Regions from separate parts of the Homo sapiens genome. Here region 1 is linked to region 2. Evidence: fine-mapped QTL for protein levels in blood plasma. Region 2 holds a variant in brackets. A gene starts in the other region. All regions are shown on their reverse strands.

What was found. PIP is the chance, under the fine-mapping model, that this variant and not a neighbour inherited with it causes the effect. Protein levels are from antibody-based Olink assays in UK Biobank. Linkage for the fine-mapping came from a reference panel and not from the study's own genotypes, which makes the PIPs less certain.
Region 1: KLK11 starts here. The variant in region 2 is fine-mapped to the plasma level of the KLK11 protein (UK Biobank, PIP above 0.99).

Annotation. Positions count from the first base shown.
Region 1 is chr19:51,025,954-51,035,322 of GRCh38, reverse strand. It overlaps KLK11 (kallikrein related peptidase 11), which reads left to right and starts at 8,707. Exons shown (of 6, transcript NM_001136032.3): 1 at 8,707-8,785. KLK12 (kallikrein related peptidase 12) reads left to right here and starts at 321. Exons shown (of 6, transcript NM_001370125.1): 1 at 321-517; 2 at 683-738; 3 at 1,184-1,343; 4 at 3,188-3,447; 5 at 4,402-4,535; 6 at 5,866-6,229. The coding sequence starts at 702. The coding sequence ends at 6,021. RefSeq lists a silencer at 5,132-5,363 and enhancers at 7,396-7,952, 8,512-9,069, 9,070-9,369.
Region 2 is chr2:241,840,670-241,850,156 of GRCh38, reverse strand. LOC124905350 (a long non-coding RNA gene) reads right to left here and starts at 5,990. Exons shown (of 2, transcript XR_007088410.1): 1 at 5,679-5,990; 2 at 3,677-5,592. PDCD1 (programmed cell death 1) reads left to right here. Exons shown (of 5, transcript NM_005018.3): 5 at 1-273. RefSeq lists silencers at 6,846-7,140, 8,072-8,231 and an enhancer at 6,771-7,468. The variant G/A (reference allele first, on the strand shown) is at 4,982.

The sequences.
Region 1 (9,369 bases), not on the chromosome of region 2:
TCCAAGGTCTCCCCACCCTCCTTTGTCACTGGAGTCAGGATTAGAACCCAGCTCCCTAGTCACCTTGAGTCATCAGTCCTGGGGCTGCTGACGGGCTTGCAGAGGAGAGAGGGAGTGGGGCTGGGTCTTCCCACCCTGGGTCCTTTCCTCCTTCCCCACTCCGTTTAGCTGTAAAGCTCAATTAAGTGTGATTAGCTGAGAAGAGTTTCTGCAGAATTAGAGCACGCCCCACCCCTGTCTTCGTGGTCCCCTTCCCTTAACCCGGAAACTGGATGGGCCAGGACAAAGAGAGTTAAGAGCTTTGTCAGTGGTCTGTCTGGAGCGACAGATGGAAGGAAAGGGACCGGTTGAGCAACATGACAGGTGGCTGAGGAGCCAGGTGCAGAGTGGTAGAGTTGGCTGGCGGAGTGGCCAGCACATGAGAAGACAGGCAGGTAGGTGGACGGAGAGATAGCAGCGACGAGGACAGGCCAAACAGTGACAGCCACGTAGAGGATCTGGCAGACAAAGAGACAAGGTGAGAAGGAGGTAGGCGACTGCCAATGAGGGAGTGACACACAGGGGAGCAGGTAGAGAGAGGACAAGCAGGTCATCCCCTTGGTGACCTTCAAAGAGAAGCAGAGAGGGCAGAGGTGGGGGGCACAGGGAAAGGGTGACCTCTGAGATTCCCCTTTTCCCCCAGACTTTGGAAGTGACCCACCATGGGGCTCAGCATCTTTTTGCTCCTGTGTGTTCTTGGTGAGTTCTCCCGGAGCAGGGAGAGGGCAGGACTGCGACTGGATCCCTTCACCCCCATGAGGAGGCCCCACCACCCTCCCCATCTCAGCTCTGGCCCCCAGCCTGGTGGTGAGGAGGAGAGGGGCTTTCTCTGTGCCTCCATTTACCTGCAGCTCTCAGGGTACTGCTCACCTCGGTCTCCCCTATTTTTTGATCCCTCTTCCCTTCTGTCCCTCTCTGAATCTCTGTCTCTCCATTTCCCTCCTATGTGTAAGCATCTTTCTCCCTGGGTGTCTTTGATGTTTCATGGTCTTTTTCTATCACTGGGTCTCTCTCTCTTTCTCTCTCTTTCTCGTCTCTCTTTCTCCTCTCTCTCTCCTGCCTGTTTCTCTCTCTCACTCTGTGTGTCTCTCCATCTCTGTATCTTTTCTTCCTCTCTCTGACCCATGCCCCTGTCTGTCTCCAGGGCTCAGCCAGGCAGCCACACCGAAGATTTTCAATGGCACTGAGTGTGGGCGTAACTCACAGCCGTGGCAGGTGGGGCTGTTTGAGGGCACCAGCCTGCGCTGCGGGGGTGTCCTTATTGACCACAGGTGGGTCCTCACAGCGGCTCACTGCAGCGGCAGGTAAGTCCCTTCCTGGGGTGGGCGAAGGGAGGACTATGGGAAGGCAAGCGCTGGGGGTAGGATCACAAGGGAGGGTGGTGCCCACTGGGAAGAAGCTGATCCTGCAACAAGAGAGTCTGAGGTTAGACCAGGAGTGGAACTTCCTTAGCAGTGGGCCTGGGGTGGTGCTGGGCAGGGTGAGGTATGTTGGGTGGAGGGCCGGGGAGGGTCCTGGAACCTGCCCTCCTGCCTCTCCCATTCCTGCATGTACCCTTTCTTTCCTATATGACATCTGCCACTCACCCCAGCCATTCCTTGACCCAGTCTGGGCCCGGGGCCCAGGTCTCACCCAAGCTCTTTTTCTTTTTCTTTTTTTTATTTTTTTGAGACAGGGTCTCGCTCTGTCGCCCAGGCTGCTGTGCAATGGCGTGATCACAGCTCACTGCTGTCTCTGCCTCCCAGGTTCAAGTGATTCTCCTGCCCCAGCCTCCTGAGTAGCTGGGATTACAGGCACCCGCCACCATGCCCAGCTAATTTTTGTATTTTTTGTAGAGACAGGGTTTTGCCATGTTGGCCAGGCTGGTCTCGAACTCCTGGCCTCAAATGACCTGCCCGTCTTGGCCTCCCAAAGTGCTGGGATTACAGGTGTGAGCCACTGCACCCGGCCAACATGACCCAAACTCTTTGTGCAACTTCAGAATCTATGCCTGGCACCTCTCTGGGCCTCAGTAGACTGATGTTCTGGAATTTTTTTCTTTTTCTTTCTTTTTTTTTTTTTTTGGAGACAGAGTCTTGCTCTTTCTGTCATCCAAGCTGGAGTGCAGTGATGCTATCTTGGCTCACTACAGCCTCAACCACCTGGGCTCAAGTGATCCTCACACCTCAGCCTCCCAAGGAGCTAAGACTACAGGCCTGCGCCACCACACCTGGCTAATTTTTAAATTTTTTTTGTAGAGACAGGGTTTTGCTATGTTACCCAGGCTGGTCTCAAACTCCTCAGCTCAAGCAATCTTCCTGCCTTGACCTCCCAAAGTGCTGGGATTACAGGCATGAGCCACTGTGCCTGGCCTGGAACTTTTTTTGTGAAAGGGGAGATCAGATGCAAAGAAACAGAGACTCAGGGAGAGAGAGGGCCAGCAGCAGGATGCAGAGAGGCCATTCATCAACCCACTCGTTCAATCATGAACCCACTCGTCCACGCATGAGCATGGAGGGCACATGCTCCGTGCCAGGCGGTGGGAATAAGGCAGTGAACAAGGTCCACTGATGTCCCTGCCTTCATGGGCTTCACCAGCCGAGAGAATCAGAAAGAGAGGCCTGGCGCGGTGGCTCACACCTGTAATCCCAGCACTTTGGGAGGCCGAGGCGGGCGGATCACTTGAGGTCAGGAGTTTGAGACCAGCCTGACACACATGGTGAAACCTTATCTCTACTAAAAATACAAAAATTAGCTGGGCATGGTGGCATGCTTCTGTAATCCCAGCTACTTGGGAGGCTGAGGCAGGTGAATTGCTTGAACCTGGGAGGTGGAGGTTGTAGTGAGCCAAGATGGTGCCACTGCACTCCAGCCTGGGCGACAGAGCGAGACTCGGTCTTGAAAAAAAAAAAAAAAAAAAAAAGGAGAGAGAGAGACACAGATGCAGGGACATGGTAGGAGAAACAGGGAACACCCAAGATGGAAAGAGGGTGATGGAGGTTGGGAATAAGAGCCTGTAAGAGAGACTCGGAGAATGAGAGTTGCGGGTGAGAGGACAGACAGTGAGGGGCAGAACAGTGGGGAGCGGCAGGAGCGCCTGAGTGTCCGTGGAGGGGTGCAAGGTGGGGGACTGCGTGCCTGCCACCCGCTCAGCCGTCGCCACCGGCAGCAGGTACTGGGTGCGCCTGGGGGAACACAGCCTCAGCCAGCTCGACTGGACCGAGCAGATCCGGCACAGCGGCTTCTCTGTGACCCATCCCGGCTACCTGGGAGCCTCGACGAGCCACGAGCACGACCTCCGGCTGCTGCGGCTGCGCCTGCCCGTCCGCGTAACCAGCAGCGTTCAACCCCTGCCCCTGCCCAATGACTGTGCAACCGCTGGCACCGAGTGCCACGTCTCAGGCTGGGGCATCACCAACCACCCACGGAGTAAGGGGCCCAGGGCCAGGGGTCAGGGGTCAGGATGGGTACAAGTCTGGGATGCAGGGCGAGAGGTCGAATCATGACACCTCAGAGGAAGGATGGGTAAAGGGTCAGGGTGTGGGATGGGACATCAGGATCATGGTTTGGGGTCAGAGATTATGGTGGATTGGGGTCTTGGGAGCCAAAGGGGTTAAAGGACTGGGTATGAAGTCAGGGATCAGAGGTCAGAGGTCAGAGTGTGTCAGAGGTCATCACACTGGAGCAAAAGGCATATATATATATATATGTATGTATAGGATATGGGCATTGTGGGTCATGGGTCTGGGGTTAGAGGTCACCGTAGAATTAAGGTCATGGGATCCAGAGGTTGTACAATCTGGTCAAAATCTGAGGATGGAAATTGGGATTCTATCCAAAATCACATATCTGAGATTGGAGGTCATAGCGTTTGGGGTGTGGGGCCCGAAGTTTGGGGTCATGGAGGCTGGGGCCCAATAAACTAGGATCAGGGGACACTGGCGTTGGAAGCAGTGAGGTTTGGAAGATGCAGAGCTGAGGTTGGAGGTTAAGGTAAAGACAGGGACATGGGGTCAGGAGACAGAAGATATGAGATCAAGCTGGGATCATAAGGTAATAAGACAGAAGGTCAAAGATCACAGTAGCTGGCATTGAAGAGGGTCAGGTCTGGATTCGTTGTCTCTGACGCTGGAGAGACAAGAAAGTTCTTGAGTTATGCCACTCAAAGTCAAATGTCAAAGATCAAAGAGACCGTCAATCATCTGGGGTCATGATTCATATGAAATTAAGTCATAAATATGTAACTTGGAGGTTTCGGGATTGTAGTACAGGTCGGTGAGGGGCAGGGGTATTGACATGGATGGGCCACATCCAGGGAAGAGGGACGTGGCCTCAAAGTGGGGAGATTTAGGGGACCCTGCAGCACGCATGTTCTCTCTCCAGACCCATTCCCGGATCTGCTCCAGTGCCTCAACCTCTCCATCGTCTCCCATGCCACCTGCCATGGTGTGTATCCCGGGAGAATCACGAGCAACATGGTGTGTGCAGGCGGCGTCCCGGGGCAGGATGCCTGCCAGGTGAGCCAGTGCAGGCAGCGTGCGTGGTCACCAGGACAGGAAGTGAAGGGGAGGGGCTGGAAGCAGGAGGGGAACTGATGGAGGATGAATCAGGGAAAGGGGATGCTGCAGAGAGACGGGGTCAAAAAGGAAGGGAGAGGCTGGTTACGGAGGCTCACACCTGTAATCCCAGCACTTTGGGAGGCCGAGGCGGGCGGATCACTTGAGGTCAGGAGTTCAAGACAAGCCTGGCCAACACGGTGAGACTCTGAATCTACTAAAAATACCAGAATTAGCCGGGGGTGGTGGTGCAAGCCTGTGGCCCCAGCTACTTGGAAGGCTGAGGCAGGAGAATCGCTTGATCCCGGGAGGCGGAGGTTGCAGTGAGCTGAGATCACGCCACTGCACTCCAGCCTGGGCGACAGAGCCAGACTCTGTCTCAAAACAAAATAATTAATAATAATAATAATAATAATAATAATAATAATGGAGGAGAGGCCCAGGATAAGGGAGGGAGAGAGACAGGGAGTAAAAGGGAGGACCGGGGAATGGAGGAGGGGGAGGGGCAGGGAGAGAGAGGGAGGAAGGGAACAGAGAAGGAAAGATGGGGCAGGGGTTACAGAGAGAGACAGCAAAACAGACGGAGAGGACTGGGAGCCCAGACAGGGAACCAGCTGTTTCTGGGGCTCTAAGTCTTTCCCATACCATCCTCCAGTTGGTGCTGTCCCAGACTGAGAGAGATTTGAGGATGGCGGTCTCTCCCCTCATTGGTCAGGGCCCCAGCCATTGTCCTTGAGAGAACTCTGTGCTTTTGATGGAGTCCTGCCCACCTTCCCTGGGATTGGTCATTTTTGATGGCACTCTCTCCCCTCATTGGTCAGAACCCCAGGCATTGTCCTTGAGAGAACCTCTATCCTTTATGGAGTCCCACCCTCCTCCCCTGGGATTGGTCATTGATAATAGTGTTCTCTCTCCTCATTGGTCAGGGCCCCAGCCATTGTCCTTGAGAGAATGCTCGACTCTTTATGTTGTCTTGACAGCCTCCCCTGAGATTGGTCATTAATGACTGTGCTCTCTCTCCTCATTGGTCAGGGCCCCAGCCATTGTCCTTGAGAGAACCTCTGTCCTTTATGGAGTTCCACCCTTCTTCCCTGGGATTGGCCCCTAGAGACAGTGGTTCTTCTCTTTTGGTTAGCCATTGCCATTGTCCTCCGGGAAAGTGATTATACTCTTTTGTCTAATGACCAGACTTGGAGCCCTCCCCAAGGCCCAGGACTGGGTTGAAGGGTTGGGGAGGAAAACAGAAATAAGATGTCTCCCTTGTTCAGACAGTACTTCTCTTCCCTTCCAGGGTGATTCTGGGGGCCCCCTGGTGTGTGGGGGAGTCCTTCAAGGTCTGGTGTCCTGGGGGTCTGTGGGGCCCTGTGGACAAGATGGCATCCCTGGAGTCTACACCTATATTTGCAAGTATGTGGACTGGATCCGGATGATCATGAGGAACAACTGACCTGTTTCCTCCACCTCCACCCCCACCCCTTAACTTGGGTACCCCTCTGGCCCTCAGAGCACCAATATCTCCTCCATCACTTCCCCTAGCTCCACTCTTGTTGGCCTGGGAACTTCTTGGAACTTTAACTCCTGCCAGCCCTTCTAAGACCCACGAGCGGGGTGAGAGAAGTGTGCAATAGTCTGGAATAAATATAAATGAAGGAGGGGCCATGTCTGTCCATTTGAAGTCCTCATGCTGGTTGAGACTGGAAGAAGGACTCAGCAGTTTCCCTATCTCATAGGAGTAGAAACAGAGCTCAAATAAGGCCAGGCACAGTGGCTCACACCTGTAATCCCATCACTTTGGGAAGCTGAGGCAGGTGGATCACCTGAGGTCAGGAACTCGGGACCAGCCTGGTCAACATAGTGAAACCCCAACTCTACTAAAAATGCAAAAATTAGCCAGGCATGGTGGCGCATGCCTGTAATCCCAGCTACTCAGGAGGCTGAGACAGGAGAATAGCATGAACCCGTGAGGCAGAGGCTGCAGCGAGCCGAGATTGAACCATTACACTCCAGCCTGGGCGACAGAGCGAGACTCCATCTCAAAAACAAACAAACAAAAAACCCAGTGCTCAAATAGGATGAGGGTCTTCCCTGAGTAGTTACTCAGAAATGGAGTAGAAAAAGTTACTTTTAATAATATAGGCCGGGTGCAGTGGCCCACGCCTGTAATCCCAGCACTTTGGGAGGCCGAGGTGGGAGGATGGCTTGAGCTCAGATTTCGAGATCAGCCTGGCAACACAGTGAAATCTTGTCACTACAAAAACACAAAAAATTAGCTGGGTGTGGTGGTGCGTGCCTGTAGTCCCAGCTACTTGGGAAGCTGAGGTGGGAGGATCACCCGAGCCGGGGAGGTGGAGGCTGCAAAGAGCCGAGATCATGCCACTGCACTCCAGCCTGGGCAATAAAGTGAGACCTTGTCTCAAAAACAAAAACCCAGCAATATAAATAAGACACATGTTTCTTCATCTGGCATAATAGAAATAGTGCCCAGAGCTTATAAGCTTTTCAAGAGTCCACAAAAGACCCGAAAAAGAAAAAGAAAATTGTTAGCTCCAAAATACCAGATGAAAGCTGCAAAGTCAACATTTATGACCATTTAATCCAATGTCCATAAAACGTAGCATTCTTTCCACTAGCCAACTGCAGTTTACTTTCTTGTAATGAAGCATACATTGTATCTTTAATGTGGGACGTGGCTTTGTTCTAATAAGACGAAGGGTGGAGTGCAGGCTTGGAAAGCAGGAGAGCTCAGCCTACGTCTTTAATCCTCCTGCCCACCCCTTGGATTCTGTCTCCACTGGGACTCAAGAGGTGAGGAGAGACCATCTCCCCAAATGCACTGAAGGGAAACTGGAGGAGGGAGGGAGTGAGGGGTGATCATACCAGCGGAGGCACATTTGCTGAGCCCCCCCGCAGTCTGCTCTTTCCAAGTGGACCCTCCTGGAAGCCTGATCCCAACCTCCCCTGCAAGCAGGTCTGTCACCCCCATCTCTCAGATGAAGAAACTGAGCCTTGCAGGGGTGGAGTCCCTTGTCCCCACGTCATAAGGGTAGTCATAGTAGTAGGAAGAGGAAGCACCTAGGTTTGAGGCCAGGGCTGGCTGCTGTCAGAACCTAGGCCCTCCCCTGCCTTGCTCCACACCTGGTCAGGGGAGAGAGGGGAGGAAAGCCAAGGGAAGGGACCTAACTGAAAACAAACAAGCTGGGAGAAGCAGGAATCTGCGCTCGGGTTCCGCAGATGCAGAGGTTGAGGTGGCTGCGGGACTGGAAGTCATCGGGCAGAGGTCTCACAGCAGCCAGTAAGTGAACAGCTGGACTCGGGCTGCCTGGGCGGCAGGGAGAAGCGGGCAGGGGAAGGGTCAGCAGAGGAGCGAGGCCCCAGAGGAGCCCTGGGGTGGAGCACAGCCAAGGGCTCTGTTCCCTTTCCTGGACTCGGCTTCCACAGGCCCTGACCTGCCTCCCCCACCCTCCGGTCCTGCCCCTGTGCCTGGCAGCAGCCCCACCTGTGTGACATCCCAGCACACCCCCCCTCTCCTTGCAAAGGAGAAGGGAGCGGCCTAGGGGAGGCCAGGGGCCCACCTGGGCTGGGGCTGTGGAGAGGGAGTGGCTGGGACGGGAGGAAAAAGAGAGACGGAGATTAGATGGAAGAAGAGGGATTTCAAGACAAATTGCCAGAGATGCAGTCAGAGAGACTGACTGAGAGACACAAAGATAGAAGGAATTAGAGAAAGGGCCACACAGAGCCAGACAGAGAGAGAAGAGTGGAGATGGAGACAGGGACGAGGACAGAGAAAGGCAGACAGACACATAGGGACAGAAAGAGAAAAATCACACAAAGTCAGAATTACTGAATGACAGGGAATGACACATAGAACGAGACACAGATTCAGAGACTCAGGGCAGGGAAAGGAAGGCTGCAGACAGACAGACAGACAGAGGGAGGCTGAGACACAGGGAGAAGAGGGGCTTGGAGAGGTGGCACAGGCAGGCAGCCAGTGCCTCAGAGGCCTCCGGGGAGGGCCCTCACACACACCCCGCCCCGGGGCATTAAGGCAGGGCTTGGAGGCCAGTCATCCTGGGCCCGCCCAGGGCCGCCCCCCTGCCAGCCCGCCTGCCTGGTGCCTGGCACCTGGCGCTCCAACCCAGCCTACCTGCTGTAGCTGCCGCCACTGCCGTCTCCGCCGCCACTGGGCCCCCAGAGCCCCAGCCCCAGAGCCTGTGAGTCCAGGAGGAAAGGGAAGCTGCCCCTCCCCGTCCAGGTGTCAGCCCTCCCCAAGGACACCTGTCCCACTCGGGCACCCATTTCTCCCTCTGCTCTGTCCTTCTCTGCTTGGGTGGGGGTTCCTGGCCTCTCTCTACACCTCTCACCTCCGATGGCTGTCCGCAGCCTCAGTTACCTCTAATCTCCATGGCTTCAGCTGCTGAGCTGGCCCTCTGCTCCCACCCCCGCTGGCCAGGGCAGCGGAGGGCACTGGCCCTCCCCTCGACCAGCCCCGCCCAGCTTTGCTTGGCTGTCCTTCAAAAGGGCAGGGGTTTGGCGGACAGGGCTTCAGCAAGCCGGGTGATGGGGGTCCCAGACATTGTCTGGGGCTGAGCCCCCTACTCCCCTCCAGCAGACCTCAAAGGCTCCATATCGCTCTGCTGCGAAGACAATGAAAAAGGGGTGGCTACGGAACGGTGTCTGGTTCCCCTTGTCCTTCCACCCCAAGCTGCTGGGGCCTGGCCAGCTCTCAAGGCAAGAAGGAAAACATCCTCTGACATGTGCCGGGGAGGTCCCATGGCTGACTTGAACAGGGCCGAAC
Region 2 (9,487 bases):
GAGCTCTCCTTGGAACCCATTCCTGAAATTATTTAAAGGGGTTGGCCGGGCTCCCACCAGGGCCTGGGTGGGAAGGTACAGGCGTTCCCCCGGGGCCTAGTACCCCCGCCGTGGCCTATCCACTCCTCACATCCACACACTGCACCCCCACTCCTGGGGCAGGGCCACCAGCATCCAGGCGGCCAGCAGGCACCTGAGTGGCTGGGACAAGGGATCCCCCTTCCCTGTGGTTCTATTATATTATAATTATAATTAAATATGAGAGCATGCTAAGGAGTTCTGTCCTGTCTGGTGGCTGTGGGGGCAGTGGGCAGGAGGGAGGGAGGCCTCCAGGGAGGGACAAGGCGGCAGCCAGGCTGAGGCTGTGTGTGGAGGGTGCTGGTGGCTCCCCTGGATCCTGGCCTGAGTCAGGCCTTCCCCTCGCTGTCCCAGAAACACACAGGCCCTCCTCGCCCTGTTTGCCCCACTCACATGTAGAGCCCTCCGGTGAAAAATTCCTCCAACATCACGGGGCTGGGGACACCATCTTCCCCAAGCCCAGGCCTTTTAGGGGGGTCCCACGGCCCCCTGGCCCCAGGCTTCCTGGCCAGGCATGGGTGTCCCTGAGTGACTGTGCCTGCTCCATAGCCCCCGTGTCCCCATGCCTACCAGTCCCTCCGGGCAGGGGTGGTACCTGGTGCCAGGGCGTCCACAGCGGGGTGGGAGGGCTGCCCTGGGCTATGAGGGACACAGCATCTGCGGGTCCCTCCCTAAGTACACAGGGTGGGGGCAGCGGGGGAGGCGGGGTCACGTCTGCTGGAGCCCTATCACCCTGCTGCGGTCCTTGGCAGCTAGCAGCAGGGACGGTGCAGGGAAAGGAGCCCTGCCAGGCCCTCGGGCACCGCAGCCAAACACCCACTGACACCCCGGGGCTCATTCTCTGCTTGCCATCCTGGAGCCCAGTCCTGGACCCCATGCCTGTGTCAGGGACAGGCACAGAGACCTCGCAGCTCTGGGAACTCCCGGTGAGATCCGGCAGATCAGGCCTGGCAGGGAACGCTGCCCGGGGGCTCTGCACATGATGTGGGTTTCCATCCGCAAAACCCGATAGGTCCCATGGAAAATGACCACAGGCAATGAGAAAGCCATAGAGTGCTGCCTGTGAGATCAGCGTCCAGAACTCACAGCTCTCAAACACCCACTCACAGCGCAGCGCGCCAGCGTCCAGAATTCACGGCTCTCATTCATCCATTGACAGCGCAGCGCGCCAGCATCCAGAACTCAAGGCTCTCAAACACCCATTCACAGCGCAGCGCGCCAGCATCCAGAACTCACGGCTCTCATTCATCCACTGACAGCGCAGCGCGCCAGCATCCAGAACTCAAGGCTCTCAAACACCCATTCACAGCACAGCGCGCCAGCATCCAGAACTCACGGCTCTCATTCATCCATTGACAGCGCAGCGCACCAGCATCCAGAACTCAAGGCTCTCATACACCCATTCACAGCGCAGCGCGCCAGCATCCAGAACTCAAGGCTTTCATTCATCCATTGACAGCGCAGCGCGCCAGCATCCAGAACTCACGTCTCTCATTCATCCACTGACAGCGCAGCGCGCCAGCATCCAGAACTCAAGGCTCTCAAACACCCATTCACAGCGCAGCGCGCCAGCATCCAGAACTCAAGGCTCTCATTCATCCATTGACAGCGCAGCGCGCCAGCGTCCAGAACTCACGTCTCTCATTCATCCACTGACAGCGCGGCGCGCCAGCATCCAGAACTCAAGGCTCTCAAACACCCATTCACAGCGCAGCGCGCCAGCATCCAGAACTCAAGGCTTTCATTCATCCATTGACAGCGCAGCGCGCCAGCATCCAGAACTCAAGGCTCTCAAACACCCATTCACAGCGCAGCGCGCCAGCATCCAGAACTCAAGGCTCTCAAACACCCATTCACAGCGCAGCGCGCCAGCATCCAGAACTCAAGGCTCTCATTCATCCATTGTCAGCGCAGCGCGCCAGCATCCAGAACTCAAGGCTCTCAAACACCCATTCACAGCGCAGCGCGCCAGCATCCAGAACTCAAGGCTCTCATACACCCATTCACAGCGCAGCGCGCCAGCATCCAGAACTCACGTCTCTCATTCATCCACTGACAGCGCAGCGCGCCAGCATCCAGAACTCAAGGCTCTCATTCATCCATTGACAGCGCAGCGCGCCAGCATCCAGAACTCAAGGCTCTCAAACACCCATTCACAGCGCAGCGCGCCAGCATCCAGAACTCACGGCTCTCATTCATCCATTGACAGCGCAGCGCGCTAGCATCCAGAACTCACGTCTCTCATTCATCCACTGACAGCGCAGCGCGCCAGCATCCAGAACTCAAGGCTCTCAAACACCCATTCACAGCGCAGCGCGCCAGCATCCAGAACTCACGGCTCTCATTCATCCATTGACAGCGCAGCGCACCAGCATCCAGAACTCAAGGCTCTCATACACCCATTCACAGCGCAGCGCGCCAGCATCCAGAACTCAAGGCTTTCATTCATCCATTGACAGCGCAGCGCGCCAGCGTCCAGAACTCACGTCTCTCATTCATCCACTGACAGCGCAGCACGCCAGCATCCAGAACTCAAGGCTCTCAAACACCCATTCACAGCGCAGCGCGCCAGCATCCAGAACTCAAGGCTCTCATTCATCCATTGACAGCGCAGCGCGCCAGCGTCCAGAACTCACGTCTCTCATTCATCCACTGACAGCGCAGCACGCCAGCATCCAGAACTCAAGGCTCTCAAACACCCATTCACAGCGCAGCGCGCCAGCATCCAGAACTCAAGGCTTTCATTCATCCATTGACAGCGCTGCGCACCAGCGTCCAGAACTCACGTCTCTCATTCATCCACTGACAGCGCGGCGCGCCAGCATCCAGAACTCAAGGCTCTCATTCATCCATTGTCAGCGCAGCGCGCCAGCATCCAGAACTCAAGGCTCTCAAACACCCATTCACAGCGCAGCGCGCCAGCATCCAGAACTCAAGGCTCTCATACACCCATTCACAGCGCAGCGCGCCAGCATCCAGAACTCACGTCTCTCATTCATCCACTGACAGCGCAGCGCGCCAGCATCCAGAACTCAAGGCTCTCATTCATCCATTGACAGCGCAGCGCGCCAGCATCCAGAACTCAAGGCTCTCAAACACCCATTCACAGCGCAGCGCGCCAGCATCCAGAACTCACGGCTCTCATTCATCCATTGACAGCGCAGGGCGCTAGCATCCAGAACTCACGTCTCTCATTCATCCACTGACAGCGCAGCGCGCCAGCATCCAGAACTCAAGGCTCTCAAACACCCATTCACAGCGCAGCGCGCCAGCATCCAGAACTCACGGCTCTCATTCATCCATTGACAGCGCAGCGCGCTAGCATCCAGAACTCAAGGCTCTCAAACACCCATTCACAGCGCAGCGCGCCAGCGTCCAAAATTCACGGCTCTCATACACCCATTCACCCCATTCACAGCACAGTGCGCTAGGAGACGGAGTGGCGGGCGATGTTTCATCTAGGACAGCAAGAGAGAAGATGCTCCCGGCATAAACCTAGCCAGAAACGTGGGAAAGCTGCCGCAGAGGCTGAACTCAATCAAAGGCACCCTGACCCCCGGGCCCCGAAGAGGCGCCACAGCTGCAAACATGCACGTTCTTCCGATACAATTTGTAAATTTAATACGATCCCAGTAAAAACCACAGTTCTGGAACTACCATGCTCATATGGAAAAATTAACAAGCAAGTAACAGCCAAAAAAACCATGAAAAGAAAGTGAAAGAGGACCAGCTTTATGAGCTCAGGGGAAACTTACTGTAATGAAAACAGGGTGGGATAAGCACCAGAAGACACAGGAACAGGCCCAGTCCCTGCGACCCAAATCAGTGAGGGGAAAAACGACTTTTTAACCAACTGCCCAGGGATAGGGATAGCCATCTGGAAAAGTATTAAGTTAGACTCATATGCACAAAATCCCAAATGCAGCAGAGAGAAAAGCATACAAAAAGAACCCTGGCCGCGCGTGGTGGCTCACGCCTGTGATCCCAGCACTTTGGGAGGTCGAGGCGGGTGGATCACAAGGTCAGGAGATTGAGACCATCCTGGCTAACACGGTGAAACCCTGTCTCTACTAAAAACACAAAAAATTAGCCGGGCATGGTGGCGGGCACCTGTGGTCCCAGCTACTCGGGAGGCTGAGGCAGGAGAATGGCGTGAACCCGGGAGGCGGAGCTTGCAGTGAGCCGAGATCATGCCACTGCACTCCAGCCTGGGCGACACAGCAAGACTCCGTCTCAAAAAAGAAAAAAAAAGGAACCCTACAAGAAACAAGAAACCGTGGGTGCATTCTTGCAGTGTGGGAGGGGAAGGCATTCCCAATGAATAAAGGACATCAGGCAACAATTAAAGAGAAGACTGATACACTGAACTCCATATATTGGAAAACAAAAAACTTTAGCTTGGCAAAAAAAATCATAAACAAACTGAGGGAAAATGTTTGCACCACCACAAAAGAGCGAATATGCCAGTCGTAGGAAGATCTAAGAGTCTGGAAAAAGCAAGGTCAAAAATACACGAGAAAGTGCAGGAGACATAACCCAACAGCTCAGAGAAAATGTGTGTGCGTGAGCCTGTGTGTGCACGTGTCTACACGTGTGTAGACATATGTGTGCATACAAATGTGTGTATGTACATACACAGGGGTATGTGTGTGGGTGTGTGTGTACAGGTGTGCGGACGTGTGTATCTACAATATATGTATATACGGCAGTGCCTGCGTGCATACCCATATCCCTTAAACAATGAAAGGTTGTTCAGGTTCTCTCAACAAAAATACAAGTTGAAACTACATCCACCAGGCTGACAGAGCTCTGACAACGGTGCGGCTGTTGGCGAGGCAGCAGGGAGCAGGCCTGAGGGGCTGGCGGGGAAGCCGAGCTGGAGACGCACCGGTGCTGTCTGGTA[G/A]GCGGTGGGCACTTGCCCTTTGCCCCCTCAACCCCCATCCTCGTCGAAACACTTCCCAGAGGTCACCGGCAAACATGTGCAGACGCAGAGCCCACGAGCTCACGGCGCTGGCTCGGCAACGGCAAAGCCGTCCAAAGCCGGCCGGGGGCTTGAGCCCGCCCCGGAGCCTCCATCAGCTGAGAGCTGGGGCCGCGGGAGCAGGGAGGAGGCTCAGGGCTCCCCACAGAGGGTCAGGTCACTCAAGACCATGAGGGGACACACGCGCAGGACAGAACAACTCGCTGTCCCCAACTTGCTGTCGTGTGAAAATGACACGGCAGCAGTCTGAGCATCAAACAATGCCAAATTAAAATTAAAAACCTAACTGAGGCTTGGCACGGTGGCACTTTGGGAGGCCGAGGCGGGAGGGTCGCTTGAGCCCAGGAGTTTGAGACCAGCCTGGGCAGCAAAGTGAGATCCTGTCTCTAAGGAAAAATTTTAAAATTAGCCAGGTGCGGTGGTCCCAGCTCCTCGGGAGGCTGAGGCGGGAGGATCCCTGGAGTCCCGGAGGTGGAGGCCGCAGTGAGCCACGATGGTGCCACTGACTCCAGCCTGGGCGACAGAGCAAGACCCTGTCAAAAAAAAAAAAAAAAAAAGCCTAATTGATTGACACACTTTGAGTACGTTAAAAAGAACATGAGCTCAGATCGATACTCACAAAAAGAGACAAGGCGGGCGGGGAGGGAGGAAGCGGTCGCTGTCCCCGGGCGTCCGCGGTGTGTTGGCGGCTGAGAGACCGCGGCGCAGTCAGCACTTCGCCTCCCGCCTTCCCGTCAGGCCGCCCCGCGCCGCCGCGCACTCACTTTTTCCGTCCCCGGCTGGCCCCGGGCCTGTGTCGCCGCCGGGCTGCGGCTGCGCTCCCGCCCCACCCACGCGCCCCAGGCGGGTCGGCCCGGCCTCGCACAGCAGCTGCGGCGGCTTCAGGAGCGCCCTGGGTGTGGCCGGGCCTCGGGGCTCCCCGGGGGACAGTGCCGGGAGGAGGCCGGGGCGCGTGGGACCCGGAGCGAGAGAGGCGCGGCCCCGCCCCGTGTCCCAGGCCCCTGAGCCCGGCCAGCTCCACCCACGCCCGCGCCCCCGCGCCCCCGCGCCCCCGCGCCCCCGACCCTGCAGCGCCGCCCCCACCCCTGCGCCCCACCCCAGCCCCGCCCACACCCACCGGCCGGGTCTGCGGAGTGCGTGGGCGTTGGACGCCTTACTCTGCACGGGGGACCGCGGGTCCTGTGGGCCTCGTGGATGGAGCCCGGGGTCCTTGGAATTGGGCGGGGTGGGGGGGAGTCCGCCCAGGGCTCCCAGCAGGAGCGAAGGTGAGCGGGGGGCCTCTGAAAGGGAACCCACCCTCGGGCTACAGGAGACCGGGCTGGCGATCTGGGTGCAGCGCCAAGGCCCTGGGGGCTGGTGGGGCCGCATGGGGGGCTGCGGTGTGAGTCCTGGTGGTCTCTACCCTCGTGCGTCAGGGCTCCAGTGTGGACAAACCTCGCTCTGAGTCTGGGTGAGGCTCCTGAGATTCTGGAGAGTTCAGGATGTGGAGGGTCCTCTGGAGGGTGACCGAGGCCGTGTGACCACACCATCGCCGTGGCCCCCTCGACTGTGGCACAATCGCTCCCCTTCTTGGGTGGATCTCCGCGTGTTCTCCCCATACCTCTGACCCCAGTCAGTCTGCCGCACCCACCAGTGGGGGCCCCTGTGTTTGTCCAGCCTTAGAAAACCTGGCCGGGGTGTGGCCGGAGGGGCACTGCCGGTGCCACTGGCCAGGGCTGTGAGAGCGCAGGATGCCTGCCCCGGGCACGGGGGCACCGTCGTCCCCAACTGCTTAGCCACAGAATCCAAGATTGGTTTGGGGTCTTCAGTTTTTATCTCAATTCAACCTGCAAAACCAAGTTATTACATACATGGAGGAGTATTCAGCCTTAAAAAGATGGAAGTCAGTGCACCCCATTCCCAGCAGCGCAATTCACAATCAGCGGCCATGTGGAAGCAGCAGCTCCGTGTCCACCGCCGGAGGAAGGAACGGACAGCACGGTGATTCCGCACAGAGGGAGTCACCTCAGGAAGGAAGGGCTCCCACACCCGCCGCAGCGTGGAGGAACCTCGAGGACGTCACACCGAGGGGCACAAGCCACAAAAGGACAAACACTGTGTGACTCCCCACACACGAGGTCCCCAGAGTGGGCCGGTTCATAGGCAGAAAAAGCAGACGGTGGGGCCCGGGGTCGGGGGAGCCAGCGGGAAGTGAGTGTTTAATGGGGACACTTTCTGTTTTGCAAGAGAAAAAGAGTTTCTGTTTCTGGGCTGGGAGGTCAGCCGCTGAACCGCTGAACCACAGTTGCTGGGCGGGGAAAGTGGGCCTCGACCACTGCCTGGCCTATGCAGGCTGCCCCGGAATCAGGGGCAGGGGCAGGAGCGCCGGGTGTGAGACCTCAGCCCATGGCAGCCTTCGGCCTCGCTGATGGACAGAAGGGGAAACTGAGGCCCAGGGAGGTGTAGCTGTAGTAGTGAGAGTTCTCTAGAGAAATAGAACCAATAGGCCGGGAGTGGTGGCTCATGCCTGTAATCCCAGCACTTTGGGAGGTCAGGACAAGCAGATCACTTGAGGTCAGGAGTTCGAGACCAGCCTGACCAACATGGAGAAACCCCATCTATACTAAAAATACAAAATTAGCCGTGGGTGGTGGCGCATGCCTGTAATCTCAGGTACTTGGGAGGTTGAGGCAGGAGAATTGCTTGAACCCAGGAGATGGAAGTTGCAGTGAGCCGAGATCGCGCCATTGCACTCCAGCCTAAACAACAAGAACAAAACTCCGTCTCAAAAAAAGAAAAAAAAAAAAAGAACCAATAGAATGTGGAGACAGAGAGAGAGAAACTTACTTGGAGAAATTGGCTCACATGACTACGGCAGGCAGGCAGGCTGGGGACGCAGGAGGAGCCGAAGTAGCCACTCAAATCCAAAGATGCCTGCAGGCAGGATTCCATCCTCCTTTCTCTCCTTTCTCTCCGGCCTTCATAGACTGGATGAGACTCCTGTGTCGCGGAGGCTGACCTGCTGATTCAAAGTCTACTGATCTCAGCGGTAATTTTATCTTCGAAAAATACCTTCACTGAAACTTCTGGACTGCTGTTTGACCAACATCAGAGTCCTGCGGCCTGGCCAAGCTGACACAGAATGAACCATTGCAGGCCGAAGGAGGCGGAGCAGGTGGCACGCAGGACCCCAGCTCTTCCAGGAAGTCTGGGCTTGTGGGGGGAATGGCCGGTGCGGCAGGGGGTCCCTCAGCCAAGGCGGGCCTGCAGCCGATCACGTTTTCACAAGTCCATTGGCCACGTGGATGCCCTCAAGATTATACTGATTGTCATCCACTTTCTTCCTTCTCTTTTCTTGGAATTTTTATAGCTACACTTTTTTAAAAATTAATAGGCTCTACTATCTAAAGCAGTTTGGGGTTTATGGAAAAGCTGAGTGGAAAGTAGACGGAGCCCCCATGTGCCCCTCGCCTCGCCCCTCACACACACTCTGCACCCCTATTGTTAGCGCCTTTGCCTTGGTGCTGGGTCCTTGCTGTGCGACGAATCTGCACTGACCTGGCCCCATCACGCAGGGTCCACAGCTCGAATTGGGGGCCAGTCTTGGCGTCTTGCGTTCCGGGAGTCCTGGCAAGTGCATGAGGTCAGGTATCCACCATGATGGTGTCAGGAGAGGCTTCCCTGCCCCGAAATTCCCCCGAGCTCCACTATTCACCCCTCCCTTCCCTGGCAACCACTGAGGATTCTTACTGTCTGGGTAGATTGCCTCTCCCGGAATGTTGTATAGTTGGAATCATACAGCATGCGGCCTTTTCAGATTAGCTTTGAGAACTAAAAATAAAATTCTAAGCTCCCAGTCAACTAAAAGGACGCCTGTTAGCCAAGGAGACCCCAGAGAAACCTTAACACCTGAGTTCCCAGCTAGGACGGGACAGGAGGACATATACAGCTCGTTAGAGCCCCTCCCTTTTGTGGTTTAGACACAAATGCCCAGAGTGAATGTTGAAATAGAGACCATAAGATTGGCAGGATTGGGCCAGGCGTGGTGGTTCACGCCTGTAATCCCAGCACTTTGGGAGGATGAGGTGGGTGGATCACTTGAGGTCAGGAGTTCAAGACCAGCCTGGCCAACGTGATGAAACCCCATCTTTACTAAAAATAAAAAAATTAGCTGGCCGTGGTGGCGGGCGCCTATAATCCCAGCTACTCGGGAGGCTGAGGCAGGAGAATCGCTTGAACCTGGGAGGCGGAGGTTTCAGTGAGCCGAGATCGCACCACTGCACTCCAGCCTGGGAGACAGAGTGAGACTCTGTCTCAAAAAAAAAAAAAAAATTGGCAGGGCTGAATACAGCAGTAAGATGCCAAATTATCAACAGGACCTGAGGCTGCACCAGGCAGGGTGAAGTCACACACGCTGCACTGACTTATGTCCTGCCTGCCATGAGGTTT